3 separate regions of the Homo sapiens genome follow, and regions 1 and 2 are each linked to region 3. The links come from fine-mapping of genetic effects on gene expression. A gene starts in region 3. Each other region holds a variant in brackets. All regions are shown on one strand. Distances are between the middles of the regions.

The links. PIP is the estimated chance that this variant, and not a neighbour inherited with it, causes the effect. A credible set is the group of variants that fine-mapping cannot tell apart.
Region 1: its variant is the best candidate, but not a certain one, in a credible set for the expression of LGALSL in whole blood (INTERVAL, PIP 0.52).
Region 2: its variant is the best candidate, but not a certain one, in a credible set for the expression of LGALSL in skeletal muscle (FUSION, PIP 0.58).

What each region holds. Positions count from the first base shown.
Region 1 is chr2:63,762,907-63,768,786 of GRCh38, reverse strand. It overlaps a transcript of WDPCP not described here. Among named protein-coding and RNA genes, the nearest start is that of UGP2, 76 kb to the left of the region's middle. RefSeq lists an enhancer at 2,612-3,427. The variant C/A (reference allele first, on the strand shown) is at 3,380.
Region 2 is chr2:64,428,517-64,434,396 of GRCh38, reverse strand. The region is part of intron 1 of LGALSL-DT (LGALSL divergent transcript); the gene reads left to right. Among named protein-coding and RNA genes, the nearest start is that of LGALSL, 23 kb to the left of the region's middle. The variant G/AG (reference allele first, on the strand shown) is at 3,163.
Region 3 is chr2:64,451,397-64,457,276 of GRCh38, reverse strand. It overlaps LGALSL (galectin like), which reads right to left and starts at 3,115. Exons shown (of 5, transcript NM_014181.3): 1 at 2,696-3,115; 2 at 1,862-1,933; 3 at 1,600-1,688; 4 at 812-989. The coding sequence starts at 2,731. It overlaps LGALSL-DT (LGALSL divergent transcript), which reads left to right and starts at 2,399. Exons shown (of 3, transcript XR_002959392.2): 1 at 2,399-2,752. RefSeq lists silencers at 2,469-2,768, 2,859-2,928, 2,939-3,358.

The sequences.
Region 1 (5,880 bases), 690 kb after region 3:
ATGATAGCCTTTCAAGTCCATGTCTCCTTGAAAGTTTTTCTCTAAGCTCAGTGTCACTATTTCCTTCAATTATGCCTTGTGTTATTCAATATAGTTCATTTCCTTTGGGAGCATTAAGCAGTCAGAGCTGCCTGCAAGACAGATGCCAGAGATCAGTGTTCACAACTCTGGCTGTACATTAAAAGCACCTGGGGAATTTCTTAGAAAATACAATGGCTTGTCTTGTCCCCAGAGATTCTGATTGAATTGGCTTGGAGTAACCAATACCCAAATGATTGAAGACTTGATATTTTTAAGACATCAATTATCCCCAATTTCATCTATAAATTCAATGCAACCCCTATCAAAATTTCAGCAGATTTTTTAAAAGTTGACAGATTGACTCTAAAACTCATAAAAATGCAGAGGACCTGGAATAGCCAAAACAATTTGGAAAAAAAAAAAAAAGGAACAAAAATGGCACACTTATACTGTCTGACTTAAAGATAGTGGCATAAAAATAGTCAAATAGTTCAATGGTATAAAATAGAGACTTCAGAAATAGGCCTACACATGTATGGTCCATTGATTTTTAACAAAAGTACAAAGTCAATTCAGGAAAAAAGCATAGTCATTTTCAACAAAAGGTACTAGAACAATGGGACATTTATTTGCAAATAAATGAACTTTGGTCCATACCTTCTACCATAAATAAAATCAACTAAAAATTGATCATAGACCTGAATATAAAACCTAAAATATGAAACTTATTTTTTGTTGTTTTTAAATTTGTTCTTTTTGGTTGTTGTTGTTATTTTCCTAGGCATCAACCTCAACTTAACTAAAACTATAAAACTTCTGTAAGGAAAAATTAAGAGAAAATCTTGGTAACCTTGGGCTAAACAAAGCTTCCTTAGATACCATATGAAAGAGATGATCCATTTAAAAATTTTGATAAATTAAACTCTATCAAAATTGAGACATTTTGCTGATAGAAAGACACCAAAGAGAGTGAAAAGCCACACAGACAGGACAAAATATTTGCATATCACATATCAAATAAAGGACTTCTATCTAGAATACATAAAGAATTCTTGAAACTCAACAATAAGAACACACATACACAAATAAACCTACAGATAAGATATTTGAACAGACTTTTTGTCAAAGAAGATATTCAGATGGCAAATAAGCACATAAAAAGATGTTCATCATCATTGATCATTACAGAATGCAAATTAAAACCACAATGATATACCTATACCCACTAGAATGTCTAAAATTAAAAAGACTAATCATACTAAGTTTTGGAGAGGTTATGGAACAACAGGAACTCTCATACAATTCTGATGAAAATGTAAAATGTTATCGTTGTTTTGGAAAATGGCTTAGCAGCTTTTTAAAAAGTTAAGCCATACATCCACCAAATGACCCATTCAACTCCTAGGTATTTGCCTCAGATAAATGAAAACTTACACCCACACAAAGACTTATACATGAATATTCACAGCAGCTTTATTTGTAATAGCTCAAAACTAGAAACAACCCAAATGTCCATGTACAATGAATGAATAAGCAAATTAAGTATATATACAATGCACTATTACTCAGTAATAAAAAGGAATAAATTATTGATACAAACAACAACATGGAGGAATCTCAAAGTAATTCTGTTGTATGAAAGAAGCCAGACTTGACAGAAAGTGTACATTATAACTCCATTTGTATGAAATTCTAAGGAACAAAAACTAATCTATAGTGATATAAAACAAATCAGTGGTTGTCTGGGGATGGGGTGAGGGTGGGGCAAGAAGGTGGCATTAAAAAAGGACAAGATGAACTTAGAATAGTCAAAATCATAGACAGAAAGTAGAATAGTGGTTTCCATGGGCTCGGGATAGAAGGGAATGGGAGTTATTGTTTAATGGCTATGGAGTTTCAGTTTTACAAAATGAAAAGAGTTATGGAGTTATATGGTGGTGATGGTGCATAATTTTATGAATGTATTTAATAACACTGAACTGTATACTTAAAATTGTTAAGATGGTAAATTTTATGTCTGTGTATTTTGATAAGAAGAGTCTTTTGAGAGTGATGCATATATTCACTGTCTTGATTGTGGTGATGTTTTCACAGGTGTATTAATGTGTTAAAATTTTTCATAGTGAGACTTTAAACATATGCATTTTATTATATGCCAGCTATACTTCAGTAAAGCTTTTTTTTTTTAAGTAACATACAGAAATCCATAGATTAAGTATATCCATAGAGTAAGATAACTATACATAATCCTATTGTCAAAAAATTAATATTGGCTAGGCATGGTAGTACACGCCTATAGTCCCAGCTAAATGGAAGGCTGAGGTGGAAGAATCGTTTGAACCCAGGAATTCAAGGCTTCAGTAAGTTATGATCATGCCACTGCACTCCAGCCTGGGAGACAACACAAGATCCTGTCTAAAAAAAAAAAAAATTTAATATTTGGGCATATTTACTTCCAGCCTAATTTCTTTATAAATATATTTTAAAAACATACCTTAAATAAAACTTATATGTATGTAATGTATATGTTCAGGGAGGGATGAGACTCACTGATTTAGCTGCTGGCTTTTCACATCTCTGCAAGCAAAGAATGCTAATCTTTTGGGTTAGCTGAGAACTGCTTTAGCAGAACTGCCTGCTCTGTGCTCTACCTCCACTCATCCATTACAGTGATATTTCTTGATTTCCTAAAATGCACCTAGGTGCATGTGCTAGGTGCTAGTGCTCTAAACAAGATGGACAACTTTTGAGGCTCCCTGGAGCTATGGATGGTTGGAGGTGCTATCCCTACTCATAGAAGTTCTGCCCAAATATCTGATAGGAAGCCTGGCCCTGATGTGACTGAGAGATGTATGGCTCTTCACGCAGCTCATTCCTGGTAAAATGTTTCTGCTAGGTAAAGCACAAGCATGGCTGCATCCTTCCTACAATAGAAGAGTCAGTGTCATGAGGGGTTTCCCATGCAGATGAACAAACACATGTGCCCCCGAATTGAGCCAAAATTTTTAACCAGGCAGTAGGCCAACCCTGTCAGTACCACATGCCTTAGCTGTGGTTCCTGGTCTGAGACTTGATCCAGAGTCCAGGATAATTTTGGAGTTTCTGGAAGGGATTGAATCCATGTCTTTGGGACAATGTTGCATAGAAGCCAGAGGCATGTGACCTGGCCACACAAAAGGCCTAGTACATCTAGCTAGAGGGGTAACCAGACACCTGCCTAATCCATTTACCAAGCCCCTCAAGGCCCCAGTTCAATTCATACCCCACAACCTTACAACAGTGAAGGTCTCTCTGCCCTGCCTGTGGCTGGTTTGCTTGCTGGCAGAACAGTCCACAAGTGCAGGGAAGTAGCCAGCTC[C/A]TTCATAAACTGTTCTGCTGCTTTTCTCACTGGCCCCTATGCTTAAGCCCGCTGGCCTCAAACTCCAGCTCCTCCCACCTCAAAACATTTACACACACTGTGCCTACTGCCCCCACCCTCTTGCCTTCCCTACCCTTTATTGTTCAGATCTCAGCTGAAATGTCTCCTCAGGAAAGTCTTCCCTGTCTTTCCAGACTGGGTTAGAGTTCTGCCATTAAACACTGCCGTTGCCTAGTGAACTATTCCTCTGTAGTCTTTATTGTAGTCAATATTTATGTAGTCCTATTTTAAATATCTACCTTTAGACTGTAAAATTCTTGGAGACAGGGAGTATATCTGTCCTGTTTACCATTGTATCTTCCATGTTTAACAAATGCCCAGCACATAGTGCTTTCCACACATCTTTGTTGAGTGGAAAAGCTACCTTAGCCTAGTTTAGGACTCCCTCTTAGATAAGCAGCTCTTTCCATTTTCAATTTTTTATTTACCATGTTCCTACTCTACCCCATCCAAACATGACCTCAAAGAGAATCTGGGCTAGGAAAGTAATCTGAATGACAATATAACCCTGGAATCAGAAAGGTCACACCCCTTTGGTGACTTAGCCTTTGTTTCCAGCCCAAACTCCTCCTTCATGGTCTTGCCTTAAAATAGATTTTCTCCTCAGGAAGCCTCTCGGTCCATCCCCTAAATAAACGAAAGCCCCTTTACCAGCACAAATTCCTCATCAAGAAAGTCAAGGTTGTAAAGAGGCATTTCCTAAAGGCTGTCAGTGTGTAGTGTTTGTGGCTTTTTTCACATTTCAATCCATTTATATTTAATGTGCTTTTTTAATCACTTACCATATCTACTCTTTGCGTGGTGTTTGACAATTCAAAAATCATTTAAGTCTGAAAACCTTAAATACACTTAAAAACTCAGTTGACATTTTGGTCTTCCAGGATCATCCCAGGTAGCTTTCTCAGAGGCCTATGCAGAGATACACCTGCTGCCCATCTGGAGGTCAGACCATGCCCATATGTTCAGCATCAGAGGTCACCACGGCATCACTCAAAGGATCACAGGCTAGCCCTTGACTGGCCTTGCAAACCCTATTATTAAAGTTACAATTTTTATACTTTTTGGAGGAAAATACTTTTCCTGTTATTTTTCTATTACAGAGCTGATAGGATTGGTGCTTATTATGTGGAGCCAGAGATTAAATAATTCTCAGGGTGACTGCTTAATGGGTATGAGGTTTTCTTTTGGGGTGATGAAAGTGTTTTGAAACTAGAGAGAAGTGATAGTTGTATAATATTGTGAATGTACTCAAAGTCACTGAATTGCACACTTCAAAATAACTTTATCTTATGTGAATTTTACCTCAATAAAAAGTAATAACAATAACTATCAGGGAACAAGAATTGATAATTATCAATAATTATCAACTGTAGAATTCCTCTCACAAGAAAAGTCCAGGAAAAGTCCAGGAATTTTAGTCAGTCATCACTGAGGTCATAGAATTCCCTAGAGATCTGGCCATCTGTGACCCTCCCCCCAACACCACCACCCTGTACCGTTTGAAGCCAGCTGGATTTAATGTACCACTTAAAGATTCTATTTTTAAAAACAACTTCTAACAGCAATTTTTTGGCACAAATAAATAGCCATAATGGAAGAAAATGAAAATAACTCCTGACTATCTCTGAATATATCCTTTTTAGGTATATTTTTCTACATAATTTCACTAATCAAAACACTTTTTTGTGCTACATTTCCGAATATATGAGAGGAATTTTGGTTTCATGAAGTTTTAGTAATGCTAAATTAACAACATGTGTATTTTGGATGCATTTCATGAGTTATGTTATTCTTACTGCAAATGAATTCACTTATTCCATCAACAATTTTTTTTTTTTTTTTTTTTGAGACAAAGTCTTGTTCTGTTGCCCAGGGTGGAATGCAGTGGCGCAATCTCGGCTCACTGCAACCTCTGCCTTTCAGGTTCAGGTGATTCTCTGCCTCAGCCTCCTGAGTAGCTGGAATTACAGGTGTGCCACCATGCCCAGCTAATTTTTTGTATTTTTAGTAGAGATGGGGTTTCACTATATCGGCCAGGCTGGTCTCAAACTCCTAGCCTCAAGTGATCCACCCTCCTCAGCCTCCCAAAGTGCTGGGATCACAGGCATGAGCCACCGTGCCCGGACCATCAACAAATACCTTTTTGTACTTTCTGTGTGTCAGTCAGGGTATTAGGTGCTAGGAATACTGAGAACAATAAGGCATACCCCCCAACTCAAATAAGTATGGTCTTGATAATCACATTAAATATATAGATGATCATGTTTCAAATATAGAGAGAGCTGCATCAGAAGATGAAAGTGAGCTTCAAGATATCAAGACTCTGTTTGTCATGGTCACTGTTGTATCCCAACATATATAACAGGTCTGGTATACTGGAGAAACTCAGCAAATTTTTTTTATAAATGGATGAAGCTTTCCACAATTATATACCACCTTCA
Region 2 (5,880 bases), 23 kb after region 3:
GAAAGAAAATGGAAGAATTGGATAGGATATTCTGTCAGTTAAGATGTTAGTCTTGAACATGGTGAGGCGTGTTCAACAAAGGGAGCGTTTACAAAGGTGTGGTCATGTTAAGGAAAACTAACAAGGAATGGTGCAGTATTCCAGGGTTGGCAACAATGGTATCACTTCTAGGCCTGAATAGGTCATAGGAGGACGCAAGGTAATGGACTCAGACAGATAGTTGTATGAAAGGGCTGATAGACAGGAGCTGTGGCCTTTGAATGGGAGACAGTTAACGCATGATGACCTAGTAGAGAAGGAAGGAAATGAGTATCCTGGCCTTGATGATTTCCACTCACCCTCTTGTGTCTTGGCATGGCATCCAATTAGTTGAGCCCAACTGCCAGAAGGCAGTTAATGCAATCCACAAAGGTCAGCCACCTGAAGCCCTAAGTGGAATGAAAAAGAAAGGTAAGTGGATCTGGAAAAAAACATGGAAAATATTCAGCACAAATATTCTGGCATTAAGATACTTTAGAGTGGCTGATGATATGAGACTTTACAAATAGATGCAAGATTGTTAATCAGAGGTCTCACTTCATTCAGCTTTTGAATGTTATTGAAAACTATTGAATTTAAATAACTTAACTTTCAAATAGAAACAAAACAGTATGTAATGCCATTATTTGATCCCATTCAGGTATGTGGATAGTAGAATTTATTCCTTGCTTGAAGGAAGTTTTACTACGCCAGAATCTCAGAAGCAAATAAGAAAGTAGCATTTCAAATCTCAGAAGTCAGTAAGAAAGCAAAAGAAGAAGCAAATGGGAGCAGTCAAGGAATGTTAAGAAGGGACGAGATGGCCGGGCGCGGTGGCTCACACCTGTCATCCCAGCACTTTGGGAGGCCAAGGCAGGCAGATCACGAGGTCAAGGGATCAAGACCATCCTGGCCAACATGGTGAACCCTGTCTCTACTAAAAATACAAAAATTAGCCGGGCATGGTGGCACACACCTGTAGTCCTAGCTACTCAAGAGGCTGAGGCAGGAGAATCGCTTGAACCTGGCAGGCAGAGGTTGCAGTGAGCCGAGATCATGCCACTGCACTCCAGCCTGATAACAGAGTGAAACTCCGTCTCAAAAAAATAAAAAAAAAGGTGGTCATATTTCATCACTCTAGTTGAATTACTTTTCCCATCTCTCTATAACTCTCCAGTCTTTGGATATATATATACAAATATTTGTATGTAGTTATAATCACAGCTCACAGCATTTTGATGGTGTAGTTAATACCTTGGGCTTTGGAGACTAAGATGCCTGGGCCTGAATTCCAACTTCATGACTCACTAACTTTGTGACCTTGATTAAACACTTCTATCCCCACCTGGCAGTAATGAGGTACCTCTCCCCCTCTTTGCTGGGATGGTATCAGAGGGGGCCTAGTGAATGGTAAGGACTTTCACCATCACTCAGCAGCAATGGGCCATCTCCACCACTGTGTCTAATGGCCATGTGAGGAGCTAGAATTCCCACCCTGCCCAGCAGCAATAAAGATGCCCTCCATGCTCAACTATTTGTTAGCTAAGTGGGGAACCAGGACTTCTACCCCCACCTAGGAAGAATAAGGCAGCATTCCTCTCTTTCACCTACCAGAACTGTATCAGAAAAAGTCAGTAGAACCAAGTTTAGTTAAGATCCAGTCTCATAATATGAACATATCCAGGACCACTTATCATACCAAGAACCAGAAAGCTCTCAAACTGAATGAAAAAGGCAATTCATAGAACCCAACAATGAGATGACAGTGATGTTAGAATTATCTGACAAATTTTAAGCAGCCATGATAAAAGCAGCAATAGCAATCATGCACACACTTGAAACAAATGAAAAAGTTGAAAACCTCAGCAAAGAAACAGAAAGTCACAGGAAAGAAATAGAAGAAATAGAAGCATACAAAGAAGAACTAAATGAACTGAATAATACAGAATGAAAACAAGAAACTTAGTGAAAAGCAGAATGAAGGAGACAGCAGAATGGAGGAGATAGAAGAAATAATCAGTGAGGTAGAAGAAAGAATAACAGAAATTACTGTTTGAAAAACTGAGAGAAAAATATGCTGGAAGAAAAAGAAACAGTCTCAGAGGCCTGTGGGACTAAAACAAGAGCTTTAACATTTGTGTCATCAGAGCCCCGGAAGGAGATAAGACGAGGACAGAGCTAAAAATGTACTTTAAAAAATAATGGCTGAAAACTTTCTGAATTTGGCAAGAGATATAATCCTACAGATTCAAGAAGCTGAGTGAACCCCAAACAGAATATATCTGAAGAAATTCACACCAACTCACAATTATAATTAAGCTTCTGAAAACTAAAGACAATGAAAAAATCTTGAAGGCTGAGAAAATGGACATTTTACCTAGAGGAGAAAGCAGTTAAAATGACAGCAGATTTCTGGTCAGAAATCAGGAGAACCAGAAGGAAGTGGTACAACATTTTTCAAGTGCTGAAAGAAAAGAACCATCCACCCAGCATCTTGCAAAACTACCTTTCGGGAGTGAAATGAAAATCAAGATATTCTCAGATGAATGAAAATTAAGAGAATTTGTCACCAGCAAACCTACCATAAAAAAATGGCTAAAGAAAGTTTTTTAAATAGAGAGGAAACAACAAAAGAAGGAAACTTGTAATATCAGGAAGGAAAGAAGGAAGAACGCTATAAACAAACATATGGGTAAATATAATAGGCTTTCCTTCTCATCTTGAGTTTTCCAAATTACATTGTATGGTTGAAGCAAAAATAATAACACGGTATAATATGGTTCTAAAATGTATGAATATTTAAGATGATCATATTGTAAATGTGGGAGAGTAAAGAAATCTAGACCAAGCATGGTGGCTCACACCTGTAATCCCAGCACTTTGGGAGGCCAAGGTGGGCAGATCATTTGAGGTCAGGAGTTTGAGACCAGCCTGGCCAACATGGTGAAACCCCGTCTCTACTAATAATACAAAAATTAGCCGGGTGTGGTAGCACATGCCTGTAATCCCAGCTACTTGGGAGGCTGAGGCAGGAGAATCGCTTGAACCTGGGAGGTGGAGGTTGCAGTGAGCCAAGATCGTGCTATTTTACTCCAGCCTGGGTGACAAGAGCAAAACTCCATCTCAAAAAAGAAAAAAAAAAAA[G/AG]AAATCTAGAGGAAGGTAAAGTTTTTATCCTTTATTTGAACTATTAAAATTATGATACTAGTAGACTATAATAAGTTATATGTATATGATGTAACACTTAGAGCAACCACCATAAAAGCTATATAAAGAGATATACTAAAAATACTATAGATAAATCAAAATAGAATTCTAAAGAATATTCAAGTAAGCCAAAAGAAGGGAGGGGAAAAAACAGAGAGATGAAAAACAGAGAGAAAAAATAAAATGGCAGACATAAACCCTAAAACATCCATAATTACATTAAATGTAAGTTTTCTAAATACACTAATTAAAAGGCAGAGATTGCCAGAGTGAATTAAAAACATGACCCAACTATATGCTGTCTAGAAGAAACTTACTTCGAATAAAATGATATAGGGTGAACCTGAAAGGATGAAAAAAAAATCACGTAAATATTAAATAAAGAAAAGAAGGATTAACTATATTAATATCAAATACAGTACTCTTCAGAAGAAAGAAAATTACCAGAGACAGGGAATATTGATAATAACAAAAGAGTCAATCCACCAAGAAGACATAGCATCCTAAATGTGTATGCAACAAACAACAGAGCTGAAAAATATGTGAAACAAAAACTGATAGAACTGAACAGAGAAATAGACAAATCCACAATTATAGTTGGAGACTTCAATATCTTTATTTCAACAATTGATACAACTACCAGAGAGTAAATCAGCAAGGATGTAAAAGAACTCAACAAGGCTGGGCACGGTGGCTTATGCTGTAATCCCAGCACTTTGGGAGGCTGAGGCGGGTGGATCACGAGGTCAGGAGTTCGAGACCAGCTTGGCCAACATGATGAAACCGTTTCCACTAAAAATACAAAAAATTAGCTGGGTGTGGTAGTGCATGCCTGTAGTCCCAGCTACTCAGAAGGCTGAGGCAGGAGGATCACTTAAACCCAGGAGGCAGAGGTTGCAGTGAGCCAAGATTGTGCCATTGCGCTTCAGCCTGGTGACAGAGTGAGACTCAGTCTCAAAAAAAAAAAAAAAAAAAAATCAACAGTACAATCAACTAACAGAATTTAGTCAACATTTGAAGAACACTTCACCCAAACGCAGCTGAAAATTCATTCCTTTCAAGTGCATGTGGATCATATGCCAATATAGATCATATCCTGGGCCATAAAACAAACCTCAACAATTTAAAATAAGTAAATCATACAGTGTGTTGTCTGAACACAATGGAATAAAATTAAAAACAAATAACAGAAAGGAAAACTTTCTGTTATTTTGGAAATAACATTTCTGTTAAACTTGGAGATGAAAGAGCCCTTCTAAAGAATCCATGGGTCAAAGAGGAAGTCTCAAGGGGAAACAAGAATACATTGAACTACATGAAGATGAAAATACAACATGTCAAAATTTGTGGGACATAGCTAGAGAAATGCTGAGAGGGAAATTTAATGCATACATTAGAAAGAGGAAAAGTCTCAAATACATAATCTAAGCTCCCATGACCAAACTTAAAAAAAGAGGAGCAGAATAAACCCAAAACAAGACAAAGAAATGAACTAGTAAAGATAAGAGCAGAAATTAATAAAAACAAAAACAGAAAGGCAATAGAGAAAATCAATGAAACAAAAAGCTGTTTCTTTAAAGGAATCAATCAGATTGACAAGCCTCTATCAAGACTTACAAAGAAAAAAGAGAGAAGGCACATATTATCAATATCAGGAATAAAATGGCATATCTCTGAAGACCTCAGGGAAGACCCTGAAGGCATCAAAAGGATAATAAGGGAATACTATGAACAACTCTACATATATAAATTTGACAACTGAAGTGAAACGGACTGACACTTTGAAAAAAAACTATAACTCACTCAATATGAAATAGATCATTTAAATAGCCCTATAACTTTAAGGACATTAAATTAGAAATGTTTAAAATTCTCCCCAAAGAAATCTCCAGTCCCAGACGTTTTCATCACAGAATTCCACCAGATGTTTAAAGAAGAATTAATACAAATTCTGTACAATCTCTCCCAGAATATGCAAAAGGAGGAAATATATCTCCATTAATTTTATGAAGTTACTCTTACCATATACCCAAACAAGACAAAACAGTGAAAAAAAAAAAACTACAGAACAATGTCTCCTGTGATAGATACAAAAATCCCTTAAAAACTGGCAAATAGAATTCAGCAACATAAAAATGGTTACACATCATGACCAAATGGGGATTATTCCAGGGATGTAAGCGTGGTTCAATATCCAAAAATCAGTTTAATATATCATATTAACAGACAGAAATAAAAAATCACATGATTATATCAATTGCTGCGGAAACAGTATTTGAGAGCATTTAACATCTTTTAATGGTTAAGAAAACCCCAAAAATATAAATAAAGGGGAACTTTTTCAACACGATAAAGAACATCTACCAAAATAATTCTATTGCAATTATATTTAATGGTGAGAGACTGGATGCTTTCTTCCTAAGACTGGGAATAAGGTAAGGACGTCCACACTCAATATTCTTATTCAACATAGTACTGGAAGTTCTATTCAATTAATAATGCAAGAAATAAAAGGTATATGGATCAGTAAAAGAGAAATAAAATTATTTCTATATGCAGATAATGTGATTGACTATGCAGAAAATTTCAAGGAATCTACAAAAAAAAATCCTAGAAGTAATAAGTTCAACAAGGTCATAGGATGGAAGATGCAAAATA
Region 3 (5,880 bases):
AATTTTTTTTTTTTTAAAGGCAGGGTTTTTGCTGTGTTTCCTAGGCTGGTCTTGAACTCCTTTGCTCAAGCAATCCTCTTGCCTCAGCCTCCCAAAGTGGTGGGATTATAGGCACAAGCCACTGTGCCACTACCTGCATCTCTTATTTGGCATTGCCTTTCATAGAGGAAGGGGCTGCTAATGCTGCTTGATTGGATGAAAAGTTTGGATTGTGCTTCCTGCCCAGAAGATAGTGGGGAGCAAATCTTTATTCATCCAGCCCCAAGGGAAGGAATTTGTCAGCCACACAGCCTGTAACCATGAAATAGACTGAGGCTAATTAATCCAGAGGGGGAAACAAGGACACGAACATGGCCTCATTAGCAAAGGGAACAAGAGAAAATGAAATGATCATCATCATATTCTTTAAAATGTCATACAAATAAAAGAGCTACTTATTAGCTCTCAACCTTATTAATATTAATATTTAATAAGTGGGTACTTAGTATTGATTAATCAATCAGATATTTGGGGGTAGGTATCTACTATATGTTGGGTACTACATAGAAAAGTTACTTATTCTTAACAATTTGGACATGTAAATATGGGTCTATTTAAATGTATGACCTGAATAGAACTAAGAAGATACTATGGCAAGTGTTAATTTATATCAGCAAACAGAGCTCTTTTGATCTTTTTTTTTCACCATTGGGTGACAAATTTCCTGGACATGCAGAAATTCTGGCTGCTTCAAGTGTTCTTGGCACACACTAGGTAAGTCGAACATTATCAGCCTGCCAGTGGCTGGAGCCGAGGCACTCGAGGTACTCACCCTGAATGGCTGGTCTGGAATGAATGGAAAGTAAGGGATTGCTGACTGTTCTTCACCCCTCTCCCCAGATATACAAGAATTTCTGAGTAGCTGCCGATCTGTGAACACAGCTTTGAGTTCGATTGCCACATCGGCAGGAGGGTCTTCTGAGTCCCCACAGGTCAAGCTGATTGCAAAGCTGAAAAGAAAATCATCCCACTGATTAAGGGTTGGATATAAAAACATTTCAAAATGACCCAAGTGCTTATATTTCTTCTTCCTCCTCTGGGTTTGTCCATTTTTAAGAGGCCACTACTCTTCAAGAGAGGTTAGATTATGGAGAAGTAAGTCAAACCAGCTTATTTTGTTACCTAAAGCAAGCTCTGGTGAAAACTTTGGTGTTGAAAATGACTAAAATTAGAGAATTCCACTTCGGAATTCTCAAAAACAGCCACAGAAATTGACCAGGGGAAATAATGTTAAGTTGGGTTCTTATTCATCTTGATAGTTCTTGCTCCTGGCACCATGTTTCAAAACCATTAAAAAAAAAAAAAAAAATCCTCTGGCCTCCCTAAGGGTCAAAGAGAAAATGTGGGCCTATATTTATAATCTCTGATATAAATAGCTGTCTGGAGAAATGATGGCTGGGATTCATACATATTCGTTTCATGGGAACATGGTACTTTCTTGGCACTGGCAACTAGCAACACTGTCCACAAGGAGAGGAAGAGGAGTGCTAAACCACAACAGAAGTGGGCAGGGCTCAGCCACAGCCTGATAGTTCTGTCCTGACAAAGACTCTGCCTTACCTCTCTGGGTTGAGGTCTACGATGCCCATCACTAACACCTTCTTGCCTGGTCTCATGCCACCTTTAATGTGCCCACAAAATGGAACTATCTGAAAAGGGTGGGAGAAGAAAAATGAATTTTACAGCCTGTTAGGGAAAAGCCAAGACCTCAGACCCTGAAGGCCTGACCCACTGGAAAATGCAATAAACAAATGAATAAAATTTTAAAAAGCAATGAGAAAGGAGGAAGGTACAGGCAGAGACACAGAGCAAAATCATTTACCAGTCGTGGGAAGTACACGTCCGCTTGAACTGGAGAGCTCAAAGAGTTGTTTAAATGGCCATCATCTAGTTTCTAAAAATAGAAGTACACAGATTGGCTTTCCATGGGCTCTTTTTTGGGGGGCTGGAGGAAGAACCCACACAGATGTGGTGGAATCCAGCAGCCTTCCACATGCACACAGTGTCTGCAGATGATGCCTCTTCACCGTCTCTTAGATAATCTCATCACCCCCGAACAAAACCCATCCTTTCCACCCGGTAGTTAAGCCTCTGAAGATCCGCAGACCCTTCAGATCCAGATCAAAATCAAGGTCGAGGTCCACCGAAGAGCCAGAGCCCCACGCCGGAGGAGGGCAGGCCCCTCTCCAACCGTAAACGCTTCTGGAAGCGCGGTGGGCCAGGCCTGTCCTTCGGGACGTGACTGAAGTGCAGCGGCCGTGCTCAACTTCTCTCGGGAGCCCCGGGCGCCGACCCATTTCCAAGGGGGAATCCCCGGTACGTCGGGGGCGGTGGCGGGGCGCGCGCCCCGGACACACTCACCCACGCGCACACCTGGCTGGCGGTTGCACGGCACAGAGGGGGCTGTCGGGCGTCCCTACCCGCCATCCTCCCCAAACTCCCTCCCCAGCCCAGAGCCCCGCAGCCCGGGAGCCTCTCCAGCCCCTAACACCGGCCGCGCGCAGCCAGCGGCTGCTAACAGGTACCGGGCGCCTTCCCACGCGCCGGGCGCCGGCCGGGCCTGCGGCTGCTCAGCACCCCAGCACTGCTGGAGCAGGCGGCGGCGGAGTGCGGGACGGCGGGGAGGGGCGCCTCGCGCGCGCCCTGCCACACTCACCACCACGGCATCGCTGTCGGCCACTGATCCCGCCATCTTCTTGCCCGGCGCGGCGGGGTACGTGGGACGCGGCGCGCGGGCGGGGATCCCGGGGCTGTCCTGCGCGGGGCGGGGGCGGGGGCGCGGGTCCGAGCTGGCGGCGGGCGCGCGCACACACGAGGGGGCGCGCGCGCGCGCGCCCGGGGCCCGGCGCCGACCTGGCAGGCAGAGCCTGGGAGGAGGGGAGGGGAGGGAGGCAGCGCGAGCTGGGAGGGCGAAGGTGCTTGCCGCGGCCCAGAACGGCCCCGGACCCGGGCCGACGGGGCTGCTTGCTGCCGCTGCCGCTGCCGCTGCCCGACCAAGAAAAGTGGCGAGGGCCGTGCCGCGTCGGCCCTGGGCAGCATTTAAAGGCCTCCGGGGCCCGGCTCGGGAACCGGGAACAGGGCGGGGACCCGGCGGGGCTGCCGCGGCTTGCTCAGCGGGCCCTGCCCCTCGGCCATTGGACGGTGGCGGAGGCCGGGGCGGGAGGGACGGGCCTGTCCGGGTCCGGGAGGGCGGGGGCCCTGTCGGCTCTCACCGGCCAGAGGGTGGGCAGGGCCGGGGCTGGAGAAGTGAGGGCCCGAGCCGGTCAGGTGACAGGTGCTCGTGCCACCCGCGCCCCTCCCTCCAGCCTCCTTCCTCCTGCCACGTCCTGGGCGCTGGTGGGGCGATGGGAGGCGAGGTCGAGGGAAGATTGGGTGCTGGGGGTGGTATTCCAGAGTGGGAGACTTGGCAGGATTTCTTTCAGAGAATTCCAACAAAATCGGGGGAAGGATTCATTCTGCTCTCTAGGGCAGAAAGAGAATGGAAGGTCTGAAGGCTTGCAGAAATAAATGTGTGACCTGAAAGAACGAAGCAGAGAGGACTCAAGGTAGGGACCTTTCTATCCCAGGAGGCTAGATACAGAAAGGTCGCTCTTCCCTGTGGAAGGACAGGCAGGTCTAGGGGTCCCTGGACTCTCTCGAGCAGGAGTCAAAGCCTTACCAAATCAAAGTGGGCGCAGTCACTGTCCTCAGAGAGCCTCCATTGAGCCCTGTTTTTAACAAGTCACTTGCCCAGTCTGGGGTAGTCAGCTTCTCACTGAAAATCTCCTCATACCCTTTGTGGAGTACTTCCCAGGGGATACACACCTCTTTTATTCAAGCCAGAAATTCCTTTATGGCATTTCCACACTAGGACGATTATGTAACTTCTCAGATAAAGCTGTATCAACATATCCTCTATTAGGTGACATCCTTGGCTGAAACATTCCATTGCATGAATCACCGGGGCGTTCTATGCTAATAAGCAGGGAGCATGTGTGACCTACTGCAGTCCCAGAGGGCCCCTCAGAGGCTCCTTTTTTTTTTTTTTTTTTTTTTTTTAAATTGAGACGGAGTCTCCCTCTGTGGCCCAGGCTGGAGTGCAGTGGCGCGATCTCAGCTCACTGCAACCTTCGCCGCCCGGGGAGGCTTCTTTCTTCTAGTCACTGCAATTGGCTGTGTGGCCTAGAACATCAATGTGGCTTTTGTGTCTTAGTTTTCCCTTTATGGACCAGAGCTAATGATGGTAATCTCAGTTGAGCAGGGAGAATTACCTGCACACGCCTGTAAGCCTCACTCATATCCTCTGGAAGTGGTTCTTGAACTAGATAGAGGCTAAAGCGCAGTACGCTTGTGGCTGCAGCACACTTTGTTTACCAGTCTTAGCTCAAAATCACACTTTATTACTTTAAAATGTTAGGCACTTATAGGAAATGATTGACATTTGAAAGCATACTTTAGTATGTATCAATTTCTGAGAGTCTGGTATAGAGAAGAAGCATTAAAGTGCAGTAGTTCTTTATCATTAACTGAGTGACACAATAAGGGTGACACTACATGTGATGGTGGTTAAAGAGCCGGTGTCTCGCGTTCAAATCCTGGCTCTACTATTCACTAGCTGTGTGATCTTGGAAAAATTACTAAACTTCTCTGTGCCTTAGTTTCTTCATCTGTGACTCAGAGATGACAATGATGATAATAATGCCTATCTCAGGTTATTGGGAAGATTAAGTAAATACCTTCCTTAAAACAGTATTGGGGACATAGTAAGCACTTATTATACCAAAATACTGAGTGCCTGCTGTATACCAGGCACTGGGGATCCAGCAGGCTACTTTTTTGCTGAGCTTACATTCTAGTGGGCAAAGGAAATCAATAAACAAAATATGTCGGGTGACAAAAGTGTTAGGAAAAAGTAATAAGGCCAGGTGCGGTGGCTCATGCCTATAATCCCAGCAATATAGGAGGCTGAGGCAAGAGGATCACTTGAGGCCAAGAGTTTGAGACAGGCCTGGGCAACACAGAGAGACTCTGTCTCTACAAAAATAAAAAAAAAAATTAGCTGGGTGTGGTGGTGTGCACCTGTAGTCCCAGCTACTTGGGAGGCTGAGGTGGGAGGATCACTTGAAGCCAGGAGGTCAAGGCTGCAGTGAGCTGTGATCTCACCACTCTACTGCAGCTTGGGTGACAGAGTGAGAACCTGTCTCAATAATAATAAAAATAATTAAAAAGCCAGTAGAGAGAGAGATAGGAGGTAGGGTGATGCTATTTATACAGGATGGTCAGGGAAGCCACCTCTGGTAAAGTGACATTTGAGAAGACCCCTGAAGGAGGGGGGTGAGTCATGTGGACATCTGGAGGAAGAGTTTGCTGGCACAGGGAACTGCAAGGGCAAAGTCCCCAAGTACTGGGGCTGGGGGCAGTGACTGAGGAGATGTGTAGCTAGAAATGGATAGCCCTTCTACACTGTGGTTGAGGATTGGCTTTTACATGGGGAAATAGGAAGATATTAAAAGTTTCTGAGCAAAGGAGGGACATAGTTTGCCTTCTATTGTAGATTCATCCACATGCTGCTGTATGGAGTGGCCTTTGGAGAGAGGGTGGATGATAGGAGGGAGGGTAAAAATGGGACCTAGGAGATTCCTATAGCATTCCAAACAAGACGTGATGGTGGCCTTGACATGGTGGAAGTGGTGAAGATGTGAGAAGCCCTGGGCCCTTGATAAGTCCCAGCTGTTATCCTGCAGCTTGGAGAGTTCATATGGTCTTCTGAGCCTCAGTTTCCTCACTTGCAGAATTAAGGGGCAGAACTCATTCATCATTCCCTCTTAGCTCTTAGAAAGCTCTGGTTCATGAAAAGCTGTG